Linked DNA regions of Homo sapiens: all the other regions are linked to region 3. The links come from fine-mapping of genetic effects on gene expression. A gene starts in region 3. Each other region holds a variant in brackets. All regions are shown on one strand. Distances are from middle to middle.

Evidence for each region. PIP is the estimated chance that this variant, and not a neighbour inherited with it, causes the effect. A credible set is the group of variants that fine-mapping cannot tell apart.
Region 1: its variant is the best candidate, but not a certain one, in a credible set for the expression of YWHAE in whole blood (TOPMed, PIP 0.90).
Region 2: its variant is the best candidate, but not a certain one, in a credible set for the expression of YWHAE in fibroblasts (GTEx, PIP 0.86).

What each region holds. Positions count from the first base shown.
Region 1 is chr17:1,352,291-1,362,734 of GRCh38, reverse strand. YWHAE (tyrosine 3-monooxygenase/tryptophan 5-monooxygenase activation protein epsilon) reads left to right here. Exons shown (of 6, transcript NM_006761.5): 3 at 727-833; 4 at 1,437-1,643; 5 at 8,388-8,524. Among named protein-coding and RNA genes, the nearest start is that of YWHAE, 43 kb to the left of the region's middle. The variant G/C (reference allele first, on the strand shown) is at 4,449.
Region 2 is chr17:1,341,199-1,346,198 of GRCh38, reverse strand. YWHAE (tyrosine 3-monooxygenase/tryptophan 5-monooxygenase activation protein epsilon) reads left to right here. Exons shown (of 6, transcript NM_006761.5): 6 at 700-1,924. The coding sequence ends at 752. Among named protein-coding and RNA genes, the nearest start is that of YWHAE, 57 kb to the left of the region's middle. The variant C/T (reference allele first, on the strand shown) is at 3,073.
Region 3 is chr17:1,395,511-1,405,954 of GRCh38, reverse strand. It overlaps YWHAE (tyrosine 3-monooxygenase/tryptophan 5-monooxygenase activation protein epsilon), which reads left to right and starts at 5,733. Exons shown (of 6, transcript NM_006761.5): 1 at 5,733-5,908. The coding sequence starts at 5,845. RefSeq lists enhancers at 3,061-3,676, 3,677-4,292, 5,235-5,872, 5,873-6,510, 6,511-7,148.

The sequences.
Region 1 (10,444 bases), 43 kb after region 3:
GGCACGGAGAGGACCCTCATGAAAGGTTCAGCAGTAGTGCTGCATGAGTTAATAGCAAACAGGAAGCAAGCTGAGGATGTGCGTTGAGAGGTGGTGTGCGTGTTCAGCATGATCAGTGGATAGAGATGGGTGGCAGTAGCTACTTTGGTAGATAGGTTTTCGGTGTTTTAATAGTTACGGATCTCTGCCACTAAAGGAATTGCCTGGTGAATGTTGTTAAGGATGTGAGTGCTGAAGGCAAACTGCCTGGGTTTAAATTTTGATTCTGTCCCTTGCAGCCTGCCTGGGTTCAAATCCTAGCTCTGCTTATTAAATTCTTATTTAATTGTTGATCTTAGAGCAATGTCTTTACGTTGCTACCTTGTGAAAGAAGGTAATTCATGTAATTGACCAGCATTTACCAAGAAGCATCAGTGTTCAGTTTTAGTCATTGGTAATTCTGTAGCTGTACTGTGGTACTGTGAAGGGGGTGTGGGGGCTGGCGTGTGTGCGTGCCTGCATGTGTGTGTGTAACAATAGGCAGCATGCAGAAGGGAAAAGATACTTTTTATAACCTAGAGGCAGCTTTTCTCTGCTTTTGTGTCAAGAAGGAAGAAGGGAGTTTGGAGAGGGATACAAATTCTTTTTAATACTAAGCTCTCTACCTCAAAACCAGAGATAGAATATGTAATAATTTGTAGAATTTCTAGACTTAATCTGATTTAAAAAAAATTTTTTTTTTTTTAGGTTGAGACTGAGCTAAAGTTAATCTGTTGTGACATTCTGGATGTACTGGACAAACACCTCATTCCAGCAGCTAACACTGGCGAGTCCAAGGTTTTCTATTATAAAATGTAGGTTCTATACTAGAAGGGAAAATGTAAGATTGAAAGTTGGTCCTTTTAGAACCATAACTTTGTTCTATGTAGGTTTTCAACTTTTATTTAAGAATAATTGTTCAATGTTAGAAGGATAGTTAATATTGTAATGAAAAGGTGGTTGGGCTATTATGAAAATGTATTAGCTTTTGCTTATTTATATTCTTTTGTTTTTGTGAGACCTATCCCATTCCCCTCCCCCAAACGGCATACATTTCACAGTGCTTAGTGTTATATATAGACATTTTATTTTATGATTAATAAACTGTCATGCCATTCCTTGGAACCACTTGCTTGTTTAATTCTGGTCTATCAGGTGATAATTTTATTAATTTTTAGAGGCTCCTCAGTTAATTTCCTGGGATTTTTGCTTATATTTAGTAATATGAAATGTCTAAGGAAAAAAATGAAACGAAGCCAGTTATTCCTGAGAGTGTTTAAAATTATTGAAGTACACCTAATTGTTACATATATTTTTGTCACATTTTATATAATATAGAACAATTTTAGCTTATTTTCCTTTAAAAATCGTTCCTAGTTTAAATTTTTTTTTTTTTTTTAATTTTGGTTTTGTTTTAGGAAAGGGGACTACCACAGGTATCTGGCAGAATTTGCCACAGGAAACGACAGGAAGGAGGCTGCGGAGAACAGCCTAGTGGCTTATAAAGCTGCTAGTGATATTGCAATGACAGAACTTCCACCAACGCATCCTATTCGCTTAGGTCTTGCTCTCAATTTTTCCGTATTCTACTACGAAATTCTTAATTCCCCTGACCGTGCCTGCAGGTAAGTTGTGGGGAAGAACAGCAGCGCTCAGCGTGAAAGTTAAGGGGGGCGCTGTTTGGGTTTTCCGTGTTGTTTCTTGGGCCTGTCTTTGTAGACTTGGCTGCATAGTAATTCTTTTGGCTCTTACTGAAACTACTTTGGATAGTATTAAAACAGACCTGTCTCAACCCACTAGCATAGCAGTCAGCATAATTATTTTGATGTGGGATATTTTTGTTGCTGGTAGATTGAAATCTAACATGTTAAAATGAGTAGAGGAAGGAAATGAGAGGAATTAGAATTATTTTAATTTTTGTTATATTAGTTTTCAGTCTTTTTTTAAATTTGAGACCATGTCTCACTCTGTCTCCCAGGCTAGAGTGCAGTGGCGCCATCTCAGATCACTGCAGCCTTCACCTCCTGGGTTCAAGTGATTCTCCTGTCTCAGCCTCCTGAGTAACTGGAGTTACAGGGGCCTGCCACCATGCCCAACTAATTTTTTTTGTATTTTTAGTAGAGACGGTGTTTTCACCATTTTGGCTAGGCTGGTCTGGAACTCCTGACCTCAAGTGATCCGCCCGCCTTCGCCTCCCAAAGTGCTGAGATTACAAGCATGAGTCACCACACCCAGCCAGTGTTCTGTTTCTATGGGCATGTTTTTAATAGTTACTCTCGTAGCAAACATAATTTTATATTTTCTGTTTTAGCATAAACAAGTTTCAGTCTTACTAATGTGTGTTAAACTGTTCCCCCATTTATACTTCAGCTTGTTCCCAGTTTTTGATAATGTAGATAAATATGTAAGGAATATTTATACGTACATAACTTTTTACTTTTAAAAAGTTGTGATAGCCTGGGTGCAGTGGCTCACGCCTGTAATCCCAGCACTTTGGGAGGCTGAGGTGGGTGGGTCACCTGAGATCAGGAGTTCGATACCAACCTGACCAACATGGTGAAACTCTGTCTCTATTAAAAATACAAAATTAGCCGGGTGTGGTGGTGCATGCCTGCAATCCCAGTTACTCGGGAGGCTGAGACAGGAGAATTGTTTGAACCCAGGAGGCAGAGGTTGCGGTGAGCCTCGATTGCACCAGTACACTGTAGCCTGGGTGACACAGTGAGACTTTTTTTCAAATCTCTCTCTCTCTCTCTCCCCCTCTCTCCCCCCCTCCCCCTCCTCCCCCCCTCCCCCTCCCCGTCTCCCTCTCTCTCCCCGTCTCCCTCTCCCTCTCGCCTGGGCGACAAAGCGAGACTTTTACACACACACACACACACACACACACACACACACACACACACAACAATTTAGTGGCACCGAATACATTGACAGTGTTGTGTAATCACCACTATTTGAAAACTTTCTCTTCACCCCACACAAAGCGAATTATAGCCATTAAACAATCAATAACTTCATTTCCCCTCTCCCTAGCTGCTAGTAACTTTTATTTTACGTTGTCACTATGAATTTGGCCCATTCTAGATACCTCATGTAAGTGGGATCATATAATATTTGTCCTTTTGTGGCTGTCTTTATTTCATCTAGCGTAATGTTTTTATCCATGTAAAAGCATGGATCAGAGCTTCAGTCCTTTTAGTGACTGAATTTACACAATTCATTTTATGTATTTTGCACACATTGTTTAGTCATTAAACTTTTGGTGGTCAGTGGGTTTCCACCTTTTCCCTATGGTGAGTACAATGCTGCTATGAAAATGGGTGCACTAAGTATTTGCTTGAGTCCTTGTATTTAACTTCACCTTGAGGTGGAATTGGGACTGAAAATTCTGTGGGTAACTTTTTTTTCCGGACAGGATCTTGTTCTGTCTCTGCAGTTGTGCACTCATAGCTCACTGCAGCCTTGGCTTCCTGGGCTCAGCCGATTCGCCTACCTGAGCCTTCCAAGTAGCTGTCACTAGAGGTGGATGCCACCATACCTGGCCTTTTCTTTTCCTTTTTTTTTTCTTTTTTCTTTTTTTTGAGGGAGAGCCTGGCACTGTCACCCAGGCTGGAGTGCAGTGGCGTGATCTTGGCCCACTGCAACCTCTGCCTTCCAGGTTCAAGCGATTCTCCTGCCTCAGCATCCAAAGTAGCTGGGATTATAGGCGCCTGCCACCATGCCTGGCTAATTTTTTGTATTTTTAGTAGGGATGGGGTTTCACAGTGTTGGCCAGGCTAGTCTCGAACTCCTGACCTCGTGTGATCTGCCCGCCTCGGCCTCCCAAAGTTCTGGGATTACAGGTGTGAGCCACTGTGCTTGGCCAGCCCTTTTTTTTTTTTTTTTTTAAGATGGAGTCTCGCTCTGCTGGCCAGGCTGGAGTACAGTGGTGCGATCGCAGCTCACTGCAACCTCCACCTCCCAGATTCAAGCGATTCTGGTGCTTCAGCCTCTCAAGTAGCTGGGATTACAGGCATGTGCCACCATGCTTGGCTAATTTTTGGGGGCATTTTTAGTAGAGACGAGGTTTCACTATCTTGGTTAGGCTGGTCTCAAACTCCTGACCTCAGCCTCCCTCCCAAAGTGCTGGGATTACAGGCATGAGCCACTGCGCCCGGCCAATTTTTAAATTTTTTTTGGGCTGCGTGCAGTGGCTCACGCCTGTAATCCCAGCACTTTGGGAGGCCGAGGAGGGCAGATCACGAGGTCAGGAGATCGAGACCATCGTGGCTAACGTGGTGAAACCCCGTCTCTACTAAAAATACAAAAAATCAGCCGGGCGTGGTGGCGGGCGCCTGTAGTCCCAGCTACTCGGGAGGCTGAGGCAGGAGAATGGCGTGAACCTGGGAGGCGGAACTTGCAGTGAGCCAAGATCACGCCACTGCACTCCA[G/C]CCTGGGCGACAGAGCGAGACTCCGTCTCAAAAAAAAAATTTTTTTTTGTTGTTTTGTTTTGTAGAGGCAGGGTCTGGCTGTGTTGCCGAAGCTGGTCTTGAAATCCTGGCCTCAAGTAATCCTCTTGCCTTAGCCTCCCAAAATGCTGAGAATACAGGCCTGAGCCACTGCACCAGGCCCTTTTGCCCATTTTTGAATTCATGTTTTTTTCGTTTGTTAAGTGTTGAGAGTTCATTATTCCAGATAGTAACCTCTTAGCAAGTAAATGGTTTGTGAGTATTTTCTCCTCTTCTGTAGGTTGGCATTTTGTTGTTGTTGTTGTTTTTTGCTATTGTCTTTTTCTTTTTTTTTTTCCCCCGAGAGGAGAGTCTCGCTGTGTTTCCCAGGCTGGAGTGCAGTGGTGCAATCTCAGCTCACTGCAACCTCTGCCTCCCGGTTTCAAGCGATTCTCCTGCTTCAGCCTCCCAGGTAGCTGGGATTACAGACGCCCGCCACCATACCCAGCTAATTTTTGTATTTTTATGTAGAGATGGGTTTTCACAGTGTTGGCCAGGCTGGTCTTGGACACCTCACCTTAAGTGATCCAGCCACCTCGGCCTCCCAAAGTGCCGAGATTACAGGCGTGAGCCACTGCACCCAGCCTATTTTAAATTTTTACAGTAAATATTGCAGTAGCAAAATGGTTTTTTTGCTTTTTTTTTTTATTTTGACGGAGTCTCACTCTGCTGCTGTGGCTGGAGTACAGTGGCGTGATCTCAGCTCACTGAAAGCTCAGCCTCCTGGGTTCAGGCGATTCTCTCGCCTCAGCCTCCCAAGTAGCTGGTACTACAGGCACCCGCCACCACGCCCGGTTAATTTTTTGTATTTTTTTTTTTTTTTTTTTGAGACGGAGTCTCGCTATGTCCCCCAGGCTGGAGTGCAGTAGCGCGATCTCGGCTCACTGCAAGCTCTGCCTCCCGGGTTCACGCCATTCTCCTGCCTCAGCCTCCCGAGTAGCTGGGACTACAGGCGCCCGCCACCACGCCCGGCTAATTTTTGGTATTTTTAGTAGAGATGGGGTTTCACCGTGTTAGCCAGGATGGTCTCGATCTCCTGACCTCGTGATCCACCCGCCTCGGCCTCCCAAAGTGCTGGGATTACAGGTGTGAGCCACCGCGCCCGGCCTATTTTTTGTATTTTTAATAGAGATGGGGTTTCCCTGTGTTAGCCAGGATGGTCTCGATCTCCTGACCTCGTGATCTGCCCTCCTCGGCCTCCCAAAGTGCTGGGATTACAGGCGTGAGCCACCGCGCCCGGCCCCTTTTGGTTTTTGTATGTGTTTTTTTTTGGTTTGTTTGAGGACAACTGCTTAAGCAAAGTAGGGTTTTTAAGTGAAAGCCTTTCAAAGTTTGAGGAAAGGGGATTAACTGATACATTGGAACTTTAATGTTGACTATTATAGGCATGCTTCACTGCGCTTGACTGAATTTTTTTTTTTTTTTGCATTTTTAGTAGAGACAGGTTTTCACCATCTTGGTCAGGCTGGTCTCGAACTCCTGACCTCAGGTGATCCACCTGCCTCAGCCTCCCAGAGTGCTGGGATTACAGGCGTGAGCCACTGCGCCCAGCCAATGTAAAAACATTCTAAATGGCTAGTTGAGTTTGTCCAGATAGGGATCGTAACTGAAGAAGCTGTGGCTATTTAGCTAATACTGGTGGTTGCACCTTTCCTTGTCAGACTCCAGTCTAGCTGTCCCACGTGTAGCTCCAGTTTAAAGTCACTCGCATGCCTTTGCTCATGCTTCTGCTTAAACCTGAAGTGTGTTTTGTTTTCTCCTTATCCATTGAGATTAGTTCAAATTTGACTTTCCCTTTAATTGCTCCTCCTTCTGGGTCCCTGAAATACTTTATTTGGAATAGCACTTCATTCTTCTTCTTCTTTTGTTTTTGTGCTCTCTTGCCCAGGCTGGAGTGCATTGGCACAGTTTCACCTCACTGCAACCTCCGCCTCCCAGGTTCAAGGGATTCTTCTGCCTCAGCCTCCTGAGTAGCTGGGATTACAGGCATACGCCACCATGCCCGGCTAATTTTGTGTGTGTGTGTGTGTGTGTGTGTGTGTGTGTGTGTGTGTGTGTTTTTAGACGGAGTCTTGCTCTGTTGCCCAGGCTGGACTGCAGTGGCGTGATCTCGGCTCACTGCAGGCTCCGCCTCCTGGGTTCACACCATTCTCCTGCCTCATCCTCCCAAGTAGCTGGGACTACAGGCACCTGCCACTGCTCCCGGCTAATTTTTTTGTATTTTTAGTAGAGACGGGGTTTCACTGTGTTAGCCAGGATGGTCTCGATCTCCTAACCACGTGATCCGCCCGCTTCTGCCTCCCAAAGTGCTGGGATTACAGGCTTGAGCCACTGCACCCGGCCTAATTTTTTGTGTTTTTAATAGGTTTTGCCATGGTGGCCCGGCTGGTCTTGAACTCCTGGCCTCAAGTGATCTGCGCGCACGCATCAGCCACCCAAAGTGTGCTGATTACAGGCATGAGCCACCACAGCCAGCCTCCTCCTTGTAAAATAGTTATGTATTTGTCTACCCTCCATTTCTAAATTTTTAAGTTGATGTGGACTTAGATTATGTCTCTTTTTTTTCTATTGGTATATCGTATCGTTTGTTGGACATAGTACACAGTACTCAGTAAGTGTGGATTTTCTTTTAAAACTGTAAATGGCTTACATAATCACATTTCCATGGCGTCTGTGTTGCCTTTTATTTTCTTTGCTTCCCTGCCTCCATTAACGTGAAATTAAATTTTTTTAAACTTTGAGGTATTGTCCAAGATTTTCTTTTTGCATTAATACTTTGTTAAATATCTCAACCTTGTAATCCAGCACTTTGGGAGGCTGAGGCGGGCACATCACGAGGTCAGAAGATCAAGACCATCCTGGCTAACACGGTGAAACCCTGCCTCTGCTAAAAATATAAAAACAAATCAGCCGGGTGTGGTGGCGGGCGCCTGTAGTCCCGGCTACTCGGGAGGCTGAGGCAGGATAATGGTGTGAACCCAGGAGGCGGAGCTTGCATTTAGCCTACATCCCGCCACTGCACTCCAGCCTGGGTGATAGAGCGAGACCCCGTCCCCCAAAAAAAAAAAAAAAAAAAAAAAATTTTTTTTTTTTTTTTTTTTTTTTTTTTTTTTAAAAAATCTTGGGGGTGGTAGTGTGTACCGTTTGTCCCAGCCACTCAAGAGGCTAAGGTTCGGAAGATTGCTTGAACGCAGGAGTTCAAGTCCAGCCTGGGCAACATAACGAATCCCTTAAAAAAAAAAAAAAAAAAAAAAAAAAAAAAAAACTAGGCTGGGCGCGGTGGCTCACGCCTGTAATCCCAGCACTTTGGGATGCTGAGGCTGGTGGATCACGAGGTCAGGAGATCGAGACCATCCTGGCTAACACGGTGAAACCCCATCTCTACTAAAAATACAAAAAATTAGCCGGGTGTGGTGGCGGGCGCCTGTAGTCCCAGCCATTCGGGAGGCTGAGGCAGGAGAATGGCATGAACCTGAGAGGCGAAGCTTGCAGTGAGCCGAGATCACGCCACTGCACTCCAGCCTGGGCGACAGAGCCAGACTCCGTCTTAAAAACAAACAAACAAAACTTTTTGAAATAAGTGAACTATTGCCTAGAACTTGGAGGTATATTTTTTGGTGATGGTTTAGGATGGAAGTTGTTCTATGTATTTTATTAGTCGATATGTATATTATAGCATATCAGTAGCAGGCTTAAAGCATAGTAAGAAGTAGTGTTCCACATACCTTTAAGTTAATTTTTATTGTATTTGCTTTTTCTTTGCATTATCATTGTGACTATTACAAACTGGAATAACTGAAGAAAAGATTGCTGTCTAGCATGTCATTTCTAATTCTGATTTTGGACTTAATTTTTATAACACTTCTATTGAAATACCTTTAGGTTGGCAAAAGCAGCTTTTGATGATGCAATTGCAGAACTGGATACGCTGAGTGAAGAAAGCTATAAGGACTCTACACTTATCATGCAGTTGTTACGTGATAATCTGACACTATGGACTTCAGACATGCAGGGTGACGGTAAGCAAGCACGGAGTGAAACAGGCACCTCTTTCAGTTGCAGGATTTGTTTGTACTCTCTTTAGACATTCCTTGGCTTGTCGTTATATCAAGCTAGAATTTAGATTCACCGCCTGCCCTCTATGAAATTGTAATTGCTGCCTTTATAGGAAATGGTGCTACAGTACGGAGTTCCATTTTGGGAACTTAGTTTAGCTCTTCCTTTACACTGTTTCAAAGGTTGAGGACAGGAGGAGTGGAGAGCAAGCAGTTTATTTTATCTTCATTCAATTCAATTTTAGGGGGCTGAAGTTAAGTGTATTTAAATCCAGATGGTATCAGTAGGTATTTATGAAGTTTTTCTCTTTGTTGAAATATTTTATCTAAAAGGGAACTGGTTTCCCATTTCCCTCTGGGATTCTGTAGAGAAATTGAATGTTGGCCCTTGGGTCTCTTTTTTTTTTTTTTGAGACGGAGTCTTGCTGCGACACCCAGGCTGGAGTGCGGTGGCTCAATCTCGGCTTACTGCAAACTCTGCCTCCCGGGTTCAAGCGATTCTCCTGCCTCAGCTTCCCAGGGTAGCTGGGGTTGCAGGCACCCGTTATCACGACTACCTAGTTTTTGTATTTTTAGTAGAGACGGGATTTCTCCATGTTGGTCAGGCTGGTCTTGAACTCCTGACCTCAGGTGTTCTGCCCGCCTCAGCCTCCCAAAGTGCAGGGATTACAGGCGTTAGCCACTGCGCCCTGCTGTTTTTATTCTTTTCTTTTCTTTTCTTTTCTTTTTTTTTTTTTGAGATGGAGTCTCGCTCTGTTGACCGGGCTGGAGTGCAGTGGCGCGATCTTGGCTCACTGCAAGCTCCGTCTCCTGGGTTTACACCATTCTCCCACCTCAGTCTCCCGAGTAGCTGGGACTACAGGTGCCTGCCACCACGCCTGGCTAGTTTTTTGTATTTTTAGTAAAGATGGAGTTTCACTGTGTTAGCCAGGTTGGCCTCGATCTCCTAACCTTGTGATCCACCCGCCTCGGCCTCCCAAAGTGCTGGGATTACAGGCGCAAGCCACCGTGCCCGGCCTGTTTTTATTCTTAAGAGGTTTTCATTGCAAACGCTTCAGAGTATTTTAGTAAACTTAATTGTGATGTTGAGTGTGTGTTAATGTTTACTTTAAATACAGGAGCCCAAATTTGTTATGTTTGTTGATTTTAAAGGAAATTTTATTCTCTGTCTAGAGAATCATTTTGATCCATGGTAGATTGTTGAACAGGGATGGAGAAGAGGACAAATTAGTGTGATAGGAGTATTACAGGATAGTTTTACATTTGGTGGTGGTGGTGCTGGTAGGAGGTTGTAAACAAAGTCTGATGTCAGTTTTAGCTGCGGTTCCTTTAAGAATGTTTCTAAGGCTGTGCCGGGCGCGGTGGCTCATGCCTATAATCCCAGCACTTTGGGACGCCATGGCGGGTGGATCACGCGGTCAGGAGATCGAGACCATCCTGGCTAACACGGGGAAACCCCGTCCCTACTAAGTATACAAAAAATTGGCTGGGCGTGGTGGCGGGCTCCTGTAGTCCCAGCTACTCAGGAGGCTGAGGCCGGAGAATTGCTTAAACCCAGGAGGCGGAGGTTGCAGTGAGCTGAGAGATACGCCATTGCACTCCAACCTGGGCTACAGAGGAAGACTCCATCTAAAAAAAAAAAAAAGAGATAACGTTTCTTAGGCTGAAACATAAAACATATGTCGCGTTGCTTGAGGCTATCTGTAGTTTCTTTTGGGGAAACGGACCTGCTGTATTGTCTTTGGAAGTGTTATACTTTTTGAAAATGCTTCTGAAAGTGGGCACGTATGTGTCTTTTCTCTGGAAGGATCAAATCAGATTTGTGACTTTTGGGTTATGGTACTAAAGTGAGAATTAGGTGACTCAGCTTTTAACATTTACTAG
Region 2 (5,000 bases), 57 kb after region 3:
GTGCAGTTGAAACTCCTTAGGGTAATCACCCTCTTTAAAGGCAAAAGACAAATAGCATGAGTGAAGTGGTCCAAATGCCATTCTTTAATAACCTCAGTGGTCTGATTTACTTTGAGCATGCTGTGTTTCACTCTGAAGTAAAATCTGATTATAGTTTGGTGTATCTGGCCAAGATACAAAAGCTGAAATATTTATAACAGCAGAACCCCACAATAAAATACGATAGAACTTCTTGGCAACAGTTTATTGCTCAGTTAACTATTTTGAAGCATTTCTGATAATTAGCTTGTGGGTAAATTAGATTTTGCAAAAAGTTTGCAAAATACTCTTGATTCTTGAAGAGGTGAGGTTATTGAGAAAGAGTATTTTGACCCAAGATTTATGTGAAAGCTTGAATGTCATTTTAGTAAGATGGTTTCCTTGGCTGTCTACGTCAAGAGCTTATTTAGCGTAAAAACATTGAGTTGTACTGCGCATCAGTTTTTTTCATTCTGTTGACCAATAAATACTTTCAGGACCATAATCCCTTCTTGGCTTAGGCATCTCAGGTGTCAAGGATGATAGAAGTCCTTTGCCTGCGTTTAATACCAATTGTAGCAAGTAGAAGAGTCTTTATGCTTGGAATGACACCTTTGTTTGTGGCTGCCATAGCCTAATGTAGTCAATACGAAATAATTGACTTTTTTTCTTTTTTAACAGGTGAAGAGCAGAATAAAGAAGCGCTGCAGGACGTGGAAGACGAAAATCAGTGAGACATAAGCCAACAAGAGAAACCATCTCTGACCACCCCCTCCTCCCCATCCCACCCTTTGGAAACTCCCCATTGTCACTGAGAACCACCAAATCTGACTTTTACATTTGGTCTCAGAATTTAGGTTCCTGCCCTGTTGGTTTTTTTTTTTTTTTTTTAAACAGTTTTCAAAAGTTCTTAAAGGCAAGAGTGAATTTCTGTGGATTTTACTGGTCCCAGCTTTTAGGTTCTTTAAGACACTAACAGGACTACATAGAGGCTTTTTCAGCATTACTGTGTCGTCTCCGTGCCAGATGTGGCAAGATCACCATTAGCAAATGGAAATTACATTTGAAAGCCATTAGACTTATAGGTGATGCAAGCATCTAAGAGAGAGGTTAATCACACTATAGAGGCATAAGTGGTATCAGTTTTCATTTTTCTAATTGTTTAAACTGTGTTTTATACCAGTGTTTGCAAGTAATTGGGTGTTAGCTTGAGATGGTTAAAGGTGGTTTGGGGAGGGACTTCGTTGTAATGGTTTTGCTGTAAAAAATGTTTCCAACTCCGCTGAAATGTTGCTGAAAAGCATGGTGCTGGTAACAGTTCAACAATCCGTGGCTGCTCATTCTTGCCTACTTTACTCTCCCACTGAAGCAGGTTAGCGTTGAAGGTGGTATGGAAAAGCCTGCATGCCTGTTCAATTCTTTTGTTTCTTCTCCTTCCCCCTCCCCCTACCTCCTTCCCCTCACTCCTCCCCTCCTTCGCTCGCTCAACCTCTTTTGTTCAGTATGTGTAACTTGAAGCTAATTTGTACTACTGGATATCTGACTGGAGCCACAGATACAGAATCTGTATTGTTCTTACTGAAACACAGCATGGAATTAACATTAAACTTAAATAAAACAAACCTAAATTAAAAATGCCAAATATCGCGCCTCCATCCTTTATACTTCTAAAATAAAATCTCTAGTCCAAACACACTGACAGTATTATGTTTGCCTGAATGTGAAACATTCCTCCTTTTTTCTTCCATAAATAATTTGTTTGCTTCCCAAAGATGTATGTTTTGGAAAAAAATTGCCTGTAGTCTGGTTGTGAAGAACACTGAGTCAGTTGATGGTGTGTCTTGTCCTCCAGACCAGGCAGCAACATGGTATTTATTTTAATCATTAAAGTACAACATGAGTAGTACAAGGTGTAATTATGGATCATTTTCTAGCATAGTATTTCATACAACCAAATAAGGCTGAATGTCTTATAATAATTCTTAGAGGTAAAAACTGTGTGCCCTCTTCCTCCAGAGGCTAGTGGCAGTAGTGGAGAATTACTCAATCCTTTCTTAGTAATCCATACACACATTATAGACAGCAGGATAGCAGTCTCCCTTTCCAGAAACACTGTATAAGAAGCTTCTTTCCATAAACAGTTTATACATCAATGTGTATAGATACCTAGTTACTGTAGATCTTTTTATGTTAGGCATTCAGATGTGTCTCATTCTGACTGCGTAACATTGATGTACACCTGATTTTGTTAAGACCAGTTTGCTCCTTTTGGGCAGGTGCTGCAGGAAATACCCTTGGAACAGTTTTTGCTTAAATATTTGTATGTATCTGGAAGGTACATTTCTAGATTCCCTGTGTCAGTAAACATTTTTCAGTTGATAAATCCTTCCTCGTCACACTTGTCTTCTAAAATTGGATGTTGAGACTGCAAGTTTACTCTCGGTTTAAAGTGTTAGTAGCAGAGATTTAGGAAATGAACAGATCAGCGATATCCTAGTAGCGTTTAGTGAGTGCTGGCAATGAGAATAAACATGTTTTTGTGAGTTGCTTTTCCGAGAGATAGGGAGACCATTGAATATAATTATATGCTGCTGTTTGGAGCAACCTCCAAGAAGCTTTCAAGTTGATTTGCTCTGTTTCCAGCACACCTGCTACACTTAAAGGTCAAAATCCAAGGAATTCGTCAAGTCTGTTGCAGAGTTTAAAGAAACCACTCGGCTGGGTGCGGTGGCTCACACCTGTAATCCCTGCAATTTGAGAGGCCGAGGCGGGCGGATCACGAGGTCAGGAGATTGAGACCATCCTGGCTAACACGGTGAAACTCCGTCTCTACTAAAAGTACAAAAAATTAGCCAGGCATGGTGGCGCACGCCTGTACTCCCAGCTACTCGGGAGGCTGAGGCAGGAGAATCGCTTGAACCCGGGAGGCAGAGGTTGCAGTGAGCCGAGATCACGCTACTGCACTCCAGCCTGGGCGACAGAGTGAGACTGTCTCAAAAAAAAAAAAAAGGAAAGATCCTTATCAAAAATTGAAAGGCCGGGTGCGGTGGCTCA[C/T]GCCTGTAATCCCAGCACTTTCGGAGGCCGTGGTGGGTGGATCACGAGGTCAGCAGTTAAGAGACCAGCCTGGACAACATGGGGAAACCCTGTCTCTACTAAAAATACAAAAAAATTAGCCAGGCGTGGTGGCGGGCGACCTTGCTGGGTGTAATTAACATCCAGTGACTTGGGAGGCCTGAGGCAGGACAATCGCTGGAAACTGGAAGGCGGAGCTTGCAGTGAGCCAAGATCGCGCCACTGCACTCTAATCTGGGCAATAAGAGCAGAACTCCGTCTCAAAAAAAAAAAAAAAAAAAAAAAATTGAAAGGGAGCCAGGGAAGCTGCAGAAAGGTGCCGTAGCCCTGTGAGGACGGTGTCACTCCCAGTTCCTGTATTTGTGGGCTGGAAAGGGAATTGCCCCCAAACTTTTCTGGTTTTGATTTGAGTCTTACTTTGAGGATCAGTCGACTTAAGTAGAAGTTTTTAGTTAGTTACAACTTGAATGTAGCTAATATGTGTTTTTAATTACAAATCTCAGTACTTTGCTGCCTTGGAAAACCCAAAGGCTTCCTACAATGTTAGAAGCGACAGTAAGTGGGTTTGTGTACATGCTCTGTTCCGGGTGGGTCCTCAGAACAGCACGTCTGCAAAGTTAAATTTCGGTCCTATAGGAAGATGGGGATGAACTTCCATCACTGAAAGGGGAAACTGGTGGGATAAATGGAGACATTAATTGGCTTCTGTCCCAGACAAATGCCTTGAGCCTTATAAATGAGACCCCAAATTAGCTGCTTCCTGATCCTAGGACAATAGAGGAGAGTGAGGCTTGCTGAAAAAGCGGGATAAAGGTGTGACCCCTGTGTTCTTTTGAAAATTGTAACAAGTAATAGTTCATGGAAAACTGGTGAAATCCTAGAGTGTGTCATTAAAGGAAGCCTTTGTGAGCACTGTGAGAGGAAATGGGAATGCTCCCAGATCCAACCTGGATCAGGAAAACCAAGCCCTGTGTTGTTTTATCCTGTTTCTTTGAGTTCGTAGGATTGTAATAGATACTGTTAATATTTAGCTAACATTGGCCGGGCGCGGTGGCTCACGCCTGTAATCCCAGCACTTTGGGAGGCCGACGTGGGCGGATCACGAGGTCAGGAGATCGAGACCATCCTGGCTGACACGGTGAAATCCCGTCTCTACTAAAAAATACAAAAAATTAGCCGGGTGTGGTGGCGGGCGCCTGTAGTCCCAGCTACTCGGGAGGCTGAGGCCGGAGAATGGCGTGAACCCGGGAGGCGGAGCTTGCAGTGAGCCGAGATCGCAGCACTGCACTCCAGCCTGAGCGACAGAGCGAGATTCTTGTCTCAAAAAAAAAATAATAATAGTTTTGCTAACATTGCGTACCAGCTTTGCACCAGGCACTGTGCTCGTTACTAAGCAATGTCTGGAATCTCACACGTAAGCGCTCAATAATAATCAGGTGAGCCTGCATTGTGCAGATGGGAAAAGCTGAATGGGAAGTAGTTAAGGAACTTGCTGAAAGCTGCATGGCTAATAATTCAAATACAGAATTCAGTTCATCTGTGTCACTGAAGAGTCTCATTAGGCCATACTACCTTTTGCTCTTCATTAAAACTATTTTCTTGAAATACTATATTCCCCCTTATTAATATATTCTAAAGTGATCATTTAAAGTATTTAAACTTTTTTTTTTTTTTTTTTTTTTGGAGACAGAGTCTCTCTCTGTCACCCAGGCTGGAGTGCAGTGGTGCAACCTCGGCTCACTGCAAGCTCCGCCTCCCGGGTTCACACCATTGTCCTGCCTCAGCCTCCAGAGTAGCTGAGACTACAGGCGCCCGCCACCAGGCCCGGCTAATTTTTTGTATTTTTAGTAGAGACCGGGTTTCACCGTGTTAGCCAGGATGGTCTCGATCTCCTGACCTCGTGATCCGCC
Region 3 (10,444 bases):
GAAGTGCTGGGATAAGAGGCATGAGCCACCGTGCCCGGCCTTTGTATTTTTAGTAGAGAAGGGGTTTCACCATGTTGGCCAGGCTGGTCTCAAACTCCTGACATCAGGTGATCCACCCGCCTCAGATTCCCAAAGTGCTGGGATTACAGAAGTGAGCCACCGAGCCTGGTTAATGATATTTTTTAACATCTTATTTCCTTCTCATAGTGCTTAGTACACTGCCACATATCTAGGGGCTCTCCGGACGGACTGAGTGAGTTCTTGTTTCTTATTAAAGCAGATTTTCTATCAGGCAGGGAGACTTACACTTGGGGTTGTGACCTATGACCTGGAGATTGTGTCAAAGGCGTTTCAATAGCAAGTGAAGTATCTATGGCCGCAGCAGCCGTGAAAAGCGCAGGACCGTATCACGACAGCCACTTCTGCGCAGCACCAGGATGTTTTATATCTGTTTATAATCCCGAATGCTACATCAAAATTGTTTCTGTCTATTTTTGGTGCCCTATCAACCATGTCTGCCCGTTAGTTCCATGTATTGAGAGAACGGGCAGTGCAGTCACACCAGCAATCTACGTGTAGGGTTTCTGCCGTCTCAGCAGTTACGTAGGAAGAGGCACTTTTGGAGAGACTTCGGCGGGTCTGGGGAGACACTGTACAGAAGCTTCTTTGTGAAAGAGACGGCCGATAGCTTCTTTCCCCAGCACAGACAGCTGCATAGCCACGGCAGCCCCTGTAATCAACCCGGCAGCAGAGCTGTCTTTGTAGGTAGGTTTGTGAATGTGTGGACCAAATCCTTAATTTGGCCACCCCTATTGGCCACTCATTGCTCTCAAATTACCTGTCTGTCTTCACTGCTCCTCTCAGGAGACCCCTATGCTTACCAGTTCCACTTTCTCGACTTCCCTGAGCTTCAACCAAATGCAATCTGGCTTCCAACACCATTTCGAAACTCCTTTTGAAGGTCACTAATGACCTAATCGCTATATCCAATGGCTTTCCCTCAGTGCTAATCTGACTTATGTCTCTGCAGAATTTAATACGACTGACACCTCCTTTTATTCTTTTTTTTTTTTTTGATATGGAGTCTCACTCTGTCACCCAGGCTGAGGTGCAGTGGCGCAATCTCAGCTCACCACAACTTCCGCCTCCCAGGTTCAAGTGATTCTCCGGCCTCAGCCTCCTCAGTAGCTGGGATTACAGCCGCGTGCCACCATGCCCAGCTACTTTTTGTATTTTTGGTAGACACAGGGTTTCACCATTTTGGTCAGGCTGGTCTCAAACTCCTGACCTCATTATCTGCCCGCCTTGGCCTCCCAAAGTGCTGGGATTACAGGCGTGAGCCACTGTGCCCGGCCAACAGCTTCCCTTCTATTTGGAATGCGTGTCCCCTTTTACAACTCCTTCGTGGTCATTTTTACCTGGGTGATCCTTGGGTACCTGCGGATCCCTGATCCTCTGAACCAACATGTGCTAAAAGAACTTTGTCTTTCTCTGCATTCCATCAGCAAGTGTTCCTAGCATTCCCATTTTTTGTTAATATTCTCAGGGTGGAAAGATGGAAAGTCAATTTTTATTATAAGATCTTCAATCTGGGCCAGGTGCGGTGGCTCACGCTGGTAATCCCAGCACTTTGGGAGGCTGAGGTGGGAGGATCACCTGAGGTCGGAGTTCAAGACCAGCCTGGCTAATACGGTGAAACCCTGTCTCTACTAAAAATACAAAAATTAGCTGGGCATGGTGGGGCACACCTGTAATCCCAGCTACTTGGGGGGCTGAGACAGGAGAATCGCTCGAACCTGGGAGACAGAAGTTGTGGTGAGCCGAGATTGTGACATTGCACTCCAGCCTGGGCGACAGAGCGAGACTGTCTCAAAATTAAAAAAAAAAAAAAAGCCCTCTCCCTCTCCCTCTCCCTCTCCCCACAGTCTCCCTCTCCCTCTCTTTCCACGGTCTCCCTCTGATGCCGAGCCGAAGCTGGACTGTACTGCTGCCATCTCGGCTCACTGCAACCTCCCTGCCTGATTCTCCTGCCTCAGCCTGCCGAGTGCCTGCGATTGCAGGCGCGCGCTGCCATGCCTGACTGGTTTTCGTATTTTTTTGGTGGAGACGGGGTTTCGCTGTGTTGGCCGGGCTGGTCTCCAGCTCCTAACCGCGAGTGATCTGCCAGCCTCGGCCTCCCGAGGTGCCGGGATTGCAGACGGAGTCTGGTTCACTCAGTGCTCAGTGGTGCCCAGGCTGGAGTGCAGTGGCGTGATCTCGGCTCGCTACAACCTCCACCTCCCAGCCGCCTGCCTTGGCCCCTCAAAGTGCCGAGATTGCAGCCTCTGCCCGGCTGCCACCCTGTCTGGGAAGTGAGGAGCGTCTCTGCCTGGCCGCCCATCGTCTGGGATGTGAGGAGCCCCTCTGCCTGGCTGCCCAGTCTGGAAAATGAGGAGCGTCTCTGCCCGGCCGCCATCCCATCTAGGAAGTGAGGAGCGTCTCTGCCCGGCCGCCCATCGTCTGGGAGGTGAGGAGCGTCTCTGCCCGGCCGCCCCGTCTGAGAAGTGAGGAGCCCCTCCACCCGGCAGCCGCCCCGTCAGAGAAGTGAGGAGCCCCTCCGCCCGGCAGCCACCCCATCTGGGAAGTGAGGAGCGTCTCCGCCCGGCAGCCACCCCGTCCGGGAGGGAGGTGGGGGGGTCAGCCCCCCGCCCGGCCAGCCGCCCCGTCCGGGAGGTGAGGGGCGCATCTGCCCGGCCGCCCCTACTGGGAAGTGAGGAGCCCCTCTGCCCGGCCGCCACCCCGTCTGGGAGGTGTGCCCAGCAGCTCATTGAGAACGGGCCATGATGACAATGGCGGTTTTGTGGAATAGAAAGGGGGGAAAGGTGGGGAAAAGATTGAGAGGTTGGATGCTTGCCGTGTCTGTGTAGAAAGAGGTAGACATGGGAGACTTCTCATTTTGTTCTGTACTAAGAAAACTTCTTCTGCCTTGGGATCCTGTTGATCTGTGACCTTACCCCCAACCCTGTGCTCTCTGAAACATGTGCTGTGTCCACTCAGGGTTAAATGGATTAAGGGCGGTGCAAGATGTGCTTTGTTAAACAGATGCTTGAAGGCAGCATGCTCGTTAAGAGTCATCACCACTCCCTAATCTCAAGTACCCAGGGACACAAACACTGCGGAAGGCCTCAGGGTCCTCTGCCTAGGAAAACCAGAGACCCTTGTTCACATGTTTATCTGCTGACCTTCCCTCCACTATTGTCCTATGACCCTGCCAAATCCCCCTCTGCGAGAAACACCCAAGAATGATCAATTTAAAAAAAAAAACAAAAAAAACACAAAAAAAACATTATATTATCGACTATACCTTAAATTATAATAAAATGTTATATATGTAATGGTAAAAAAAAAAAAAAGAGCTGCAATCTGATCAGCTGCTTGTGGCTTCCCTCTATAGTGCTATTCCTATTTATCCTTTCCTTTCTATTTTCATTGCTCCCACGTATTACGTTTGGTTATCCTCCTCTTTAATCATTGCTATGGAATATTTGTTAATATTTCTGAAATATAACTATGATGACATCATCCTCCACGCAAAATCATACAGCTCCCTTGGCCACAAAATAGGATGCAAGATTGGGTGCGTTGGTGCAAGCCTGTAGTTTCCCAACTACTTGGGAGGCCAAGGTGGGATTGCTTGAACTCAGTTTAAGGCCAGTCTGTGCAACGTGGCAAGATCCCTCCCTCTCCCCACTTTATTTTTTGAGACAGGGTCTCGCTCTGTTACCCAGGCTGGAGTCCACTGGTGCAATCACAGTTCACTGCAGCCTCAACCTCCTGGACTCAGGAGATCCTCCTGCTTCAGCCTCTGAAACTGCTAAGATATGGCTCAGGCCTGTCATCCCAGCACTTTGGGAGGCCGAGGTGGGCAGATCACGAGGTCAGGAGATCGAGGCCACCCTGGCTAACATGGTGAAACCCCGTCTCTATTAAAAATACAAAAAATTGGCCGGGTGTGGTGGCATGTGCCCGTAGTCTCAGCTACTTGGGAGGCTGAAGCAGGAGAATTGCTTCAACCCGGGAGGTGGAGGTTGCAGTGAGCCGAGATCACGACACTGCACTCCAGCCTGGGCAACAGAGCGAGATGCCGACTCAAATAAAAAAAAAAAAAAACGTTTTTATAGACATGGAGTCTCGCTATGTTGCCCAGGCTGGGCTCAAGTCATCCTTCCGCATGGGCCTCCCAAGCGCCAGAAGCTGAAGCAATGTTCACTGAGTTATTCCTGCCTCCACAATCTTTATTTGATCTTGGTCCAACTCTTCTGTACCATGTACTCCACACCACCCTCATCTAACAAATTCCCTGCTCCTATTCATAGTGGGCCTAGGGAGGGAAAAAGGTTAAACAGGAGAAGACAAAGATCAGTGTGAGGGGAAAGTTGAGGCGTGAAAACTGGAGCTCCCCTGTCCCTGACAACTGTAACAGGGCCCAGTTCGTTTTTTTTCTTTTTCTTTGTTTTGAGACAGAGTTGTGCTCTTGTTGCCCAGGCTGGAGTGCAATGGTGTGCTCTCGGTTCACTGCACCCTCCCACTCCCGGGTTCAAGCGATTCTCCTGCCTCAGCCTCTGGAGTAGCTGGGATTACAGGCATGCACCACCACGCCCAGCTAATTTTTGTATATATATATAATTTTTCTTTTGAAACACAGTCTCACACTGTCGCCTGGGCTGGAGTGCAATGGGAGGATCTCGGCTCACTGTAACCTCCGCCTCCCGGGTTCAAGAGATTCTCCTGCCTCAGCCTCCTGAGTAGCTGGGATGACAGGCATGCACCACCATGCCAAGCTAATTTTTTGTATTTTTAGTAGAGACGGGGTTTCACTATATTGGCCAGGCTGGTCTCGAACTCCTGACCTTGTGATCCTCCCGCCTTGGCCTCCCAAAGTGCTGGGATGACAGGCATGAGCCGCCGCGCCCGGCCAGGGCCCGGTTCGTTACCCTGAGTCTAAAAGTGTCTGAAAAAGGCCCATGACCAGGCTTGGCCGAGAAAACTAGGACGTGGGCTGGGCGCGGTGGCTCACCCCTGGAATCCCAGCGCTTTGGGAGGCCGAGGGGGGGCGGATCATCTGAGGTCGGGAGTTCGAGACCAGCCTGGCCAACATGGTGAAACCCCATCTCTATTAAAAATACAAAAGCTGGGGGTGGTGGCGGGGGCCTGAAATCCCAGCTACTCGAGAGGCTGAGGCAGCAGAATCACTTGAACCCGGGAAGGCGGACGTTGTGGTAACCCGAGATCGCACCACTGCACTCCAGCCTGGGGAACAAGAGGGAAACTCCGTCTCAAAAAGAAAAAAGAAAAAAGAAAAAAGAAAAGAAAACCAGGGCGCGGTAGTGACAGCCTCAGATTTCGGGAAAGAAGACCTGCCATGACAGAAACCGTTACAGCCTCCGTCGTTCTTTTCCGCAGGTCGGGCCTCGGGCCCCGGTCTGACCCAGGTCTCTCGCTGGCTTTTTTCAGGAGCAGTCCCGGCCGGCCCCGCCTCAGCCCTTCTCGTTCCCCGGGGGCCGCTCCCTTTCGGCAGTCGCAGTTCCCGCCTCTGGGCTCCGGCGCCCGCTGAGCCGACAGAGGAGAGGCGTCTCGTGCGCTCGTTCCAGCCGCTTCGGGCGCCGAGTTCCAGGACCCGCCCCCCGCGCCAGTTGCCAGGGAGCGGTTGCCATAGAGCTGAGCAGTTGTCCGCGTGCGCAGGCGGAAGTCCCGGATTGAGGCGCCGCCATTTTTGCTGCCCGGACGCGGAGCGAGAGGCTGAGAGAGTCGGAGACACTATCCGCTTCCATCCGTCGCGCAGACCCTGCCGGAGCCGCTGCCGCTATGGATGATCGAGAGGATCTGGTGTACCAGGCGAAGCTGGCCGAGCAGGCTGAGCGATACGACGGTGAGTTGGGGGGGCAACGGGGGGCTGGAATTCTCGGACCCTCTGCCGCCGCCCACAGAGGCCGGGAACAGGAGACAAAATGGCGGCATCGTCTGCGAGCCTGGCCCGGGGGCTTGGGTTCGGGAAGCAGGAAATGGCCTGGGAGCTCCCGGGGCGATGGGAGGCTCTATGCCCTGGAATGTGACCCCTTCGCCGTCCTTAACTGCAAACAACTCGCGGGCCGGGAGGCCGGGGCGACGGGGTGGAGGAGTTGGTTGTAAAATGGCGGCTGGGGGGAGGGCGAGTCCCGGGGCGGGGGAGGGGGAGGAGATGGCGGGTGCTGTCTCCGAACGAGCCACCCTCATGGGAGCTTCTGGGACGGCCTTGGGATGTGGAGAACAATTGGGTGGGGTGACGGGGGAAGCAGCACCCGCCACATGGGAGAGAGCGAAGACCGGGAGCTGTAGCGCGGGCGCCTTTCAGGGAAATATGGCGGGTGGGGGCGGTGGCTTTTCCCCGGAGGCCCCGTGTGGGGCGGCGGCCGTGGAGTCTCACAAAGGAGGACCTTTGAGAGCGATGGGCTTCCTCAGGCCTGAGGTGGGGGACAGTCGTGGATGATGGTGGGGGGAGAGGGGTGAGTGGGAATCACTGCAGTTCGTCTTCGGGCGGTGGCAGGCTCCCATGCTGCGATCGGGTTTCTTTCCCGTAGGCCGGCACCTCGTAGTGAGGGGTTTCGGGGCTTTTCCTCCTCGTCGTCTTCTGGGGAGGCCCAGAAAATCCTCACTCCCTCCCTTTCCTCAGACTTAAAACAGGAGATCTCGAAGTTCCTGTAACCTTTCTCTGGCTCCATCACCCGTGGGTTCTGATGGATAGAACCAGGAGGCCACGACTCTGAGAGTTCGAGCCTTTGTAGAGCCCGAGCCTCCGTCCCCCCGTTTGTAAAAACGATGACTTTACAGTTTGTGCGCACCGTGATGACAAATGGGAAGACCTGTTGAAATAAAGTTATTTCCAATAGTGTTCAGTAACTGTATTTTGGTTGACTCTGCAGGCTCGGAATGCTGGTCTGTACTTCGTGGGGGATCTTAACCTATTCCAGGCGCTCGGCTGAGGCTGGGTTTTTTGAGTTATGAAGGTTGAAGATCCTGTTGCTTTCTTTTTTTCCGTTTTAAATAAATGGGTTTATGTAGAAATATTAGTAGGTCCTCTTTGTTCGTTGTTCTTTTGCCCCTAATGGGTTCTCCAGTCCTTTTTCAGAACTTCATCGAATGTCCATTGTGTCTGTCCAGTCATTGTCAGGAAGTTTATTCTTAATCCTCTCTCCCAGTCCACCTTTTGGACCACCTTTTGAAATACCCACACATTTATAATTGTGCGATACTGTAGTATTAAACGAAAGGTCATGTCTGTGGGTCCTGTGGTTTTAATGCTTTTGCGTGGTAGGGTGGGGTGAGACATGGTTGGAATCAAGTATCTTTGATTCTTAGATTTTTTTCCTAATTAAAATACCTATATTTCAAAATGTTAGGGCCCTTGCTTTCCTCGAAATGCGGATTTAGTCATGTGAATAACCTCAGGGTTAGTCCCCCTTATCATCAGAAATAAGATTCAGGGATTTGAAAATAAGACAAGGCCTCTAGAACTCATATTTAGGAAATATAGTGAACTAAATTTCGTCTTGTAAATTCTTAAATTGCTATTTGTATTCAACAAGGTTCCTGTTGGGGGGGGGGATAAGATGGGGAAGTACAGCTCAAGGTCTGCTTTGTCTTTATTTCAGTGTTTAAAAATCAAAGAGATATGAATGTGCTTGTATTGGAAGTCTCCTCCTCCGCCCCCTCATCTCCAGATGTTCCCCTCTTAATCTGTTAGTGTTCTTGGGAGGAAACAAATTGTACTTGAATGCTTTCTATTTTGTGGGTATTGGGGCTTTTTAAGTAAACTTGCTGTGATAACTAGAAAGGATGTGAGGAAAGGTCTTTTTCTTTTTGAAAGCTCCTTTAAAAAACTGATTTGAAAGCTTGTGATTGTAGTTTCCAAATAAAGTACAGGTTAGTGATAATTATATTTTTGATGTGAGTGGTGAGGATTTCTGACCAGAGCCCTTATTGGTTATTGAACATGGGACTCTGATACAGCCACATTATTACAGTTGTTAATGTTAGGTGTCCCCTTCAGGATCTAAAGGGGTAAGGAAATAGGATCTACAAGGTGAGGAGCTATTGCTGTGACTTGGGGCATAAGGTAGGGACTCAGTGGAAAGGAGAGGAGGAGGAGGAGACAGAAACCAGGAATTTCTACCTGTGTCCTCTACCTGTGTCCATTCCTTTATTGAGTGCGGTATTTTTTTGTTTCTGGTGGCAAAGTTTTCCCGGAGTTCTGGTCACCAAACAGAACTTAGCAGGTGTCGGGGGTGGAAGAAGGTAAGACAGTGTATTGGCAGGATTTCTTTGTTGGGTACTTGTACCCAAATGCTGGGTTTCCAGCTGCCCTTTTATCTCTCTGTTACTGCAGCAGGCTTATTTTATTTTGCTTGCTGTGTTGAATTAGTGCCTAAACTTCTTTGTATCCTCATTTAATTCTATCCTGGGGCGTTGGAATCAATTTATATGGATTATTTAACAGTACGGGAGGAAGAGCTAACCTGTGTTCAGGAAAATGACAATTTTGGGTCACAGGAAATATTTAAGTTTGGGGCTGGGAGTTGAAGATTAAATCTAGCATCTCATCACTTTAACAAGCCAGTAGTCTATTCGAATCGTTTTTACCTCCTTTGAAACCATATTAAGCAAGTCCATTATTTCTTAGCATTTCTCAAACAGCTCTTACTGTCCCGTATATGAAATAGTACAAGAAAGTGGGGAAGAAAGGCCGGGCGGGGTGGCTCACGCCTGTAATCCCAGCACCTTGGGAGGTCGAGGCGGGTGGATCACCTGAGGTCGGGAGTTCAAGACCAGCCTGGCCAACATGGTGAAACCCTGTCTCTACAAAAATAAAAAAATTATCCGGGCATAGCTACTGAGGAGGTTGAGGTGGAAGAATCACTTGAACCCGGGAGGTGAAGGTTGTAGTGAACCAGGATTATGGCATTACACTACAGCCTGGGCAACAGAGCGAGACTCTTGTCTCCAAAAAAAAAAAAAAGAGGCCAGGTGCGGTGGCTCATGCCTGTAATCCCAGTACTTTGGGAGGCCAAGGCGGGTGGATCACCTGAAGTCAGAAGTTCGAGACCAGCCTGACCAACATGGAGAAACCCCGTCTGTAGTAAAAATACAAAATTAGCCGGGGGTGGTGGGTGCCTGTAATCCCAGCTACTTGGGAGGCGGAGGCAGGAGAATCACTTGAACCCGGGAGGCCGAGGTTGCGGTGAGCCGAGATTGCGCCATTGCACTCCATCCTGGGCAACAGCAACAATAAAAAACGGGGAATATAGAGGGGAAAAGTTTACCCGTTTTTGGGGAGCAGAGGGGTAACATAAACTACATTTGGGCTTGTGGGGCTGTTGTTGGTTTTGTCCTTTCCTAGTCTCTTCCCTATCAAGATTGGCTTCATGGAAGGTAGGATGAAGTTTTGATGGTCATGTTGGATTCCCTAGGAATGCATCTGTTGAGTCATTTACTTGAGAGCTGTCTTTTTTTTCTTTTGAGACGGAGTCTCGCTCTGTCTCCCAGGCTTTATTGAAGTGGCACAATCTCGGCCCACTGCAACCTCCGCCTCCAGGGTTCAAGCGATTCTCCTGCCTCACCCTCCCGAGTAGCTGGGACTACAGGCATGTGCCACCATGCCATGCTAATTTTGTATTTCTTTTTTAGTAGAGACACGGTTTCTCCATGTTGGTCAGGCTGGTCTCGAACTCCCGACCTCAGGTGATCCGCCCACCTCAGTCTCCCAAAGTGCTGACATTAAGGACCTGAGCCACCGCGCCTGGTCAAGAGCTGTCTTTTTTTTGAGACGGAGTCTTGCTCTTGTCGCCCAGGCTGTAGTGCAATAGCGCGATCTCGGCTCACTGCAACCTCCATCCCCTGGGTTCAAGCGATTCTCCTGCCTCAGCCTCCAAGAGTAGCTGGGATTACAGGCATCCGCCACTATGCCAGGCTAATTTTGTATTTTTAGTAGAGATGGGGTTTCGCCATGTTGGCCAGGCTGATCTCGAACTCCTGACCTCAGGTGATCCGCCCGCCTCGGCCTCCCAGAGTGCTGGGGTTACAGGCGTGAGCCACTGAGCCCGCTGAGAGCTGTCCTTTTAAAACACCAGATCCTCATCTCTAGCTAGCTTATTCTGCTAGTTAGTGAAGAACAGGGAAGGGAGCATGTGTGGAATGAACTTTTTACTACGGTCTTGTTAGGAAAAAAATAGGTAGTAGTAAATTAACGTTGTTAATAAGTTTAGAAGTATTTAGATTAACTACCAGTTCTTTGACTGTAGGCCAGTAATTTTCCATTGCCGTTTCAGTTAATGGACTAACTTTCTGGAGTAAAGTTTATTTTTCTCCTTCTTAAATGCATAGACAGAACTGAGTAACGTAGTGTTAAAAATCCCTTCTACGACTGGGCTCT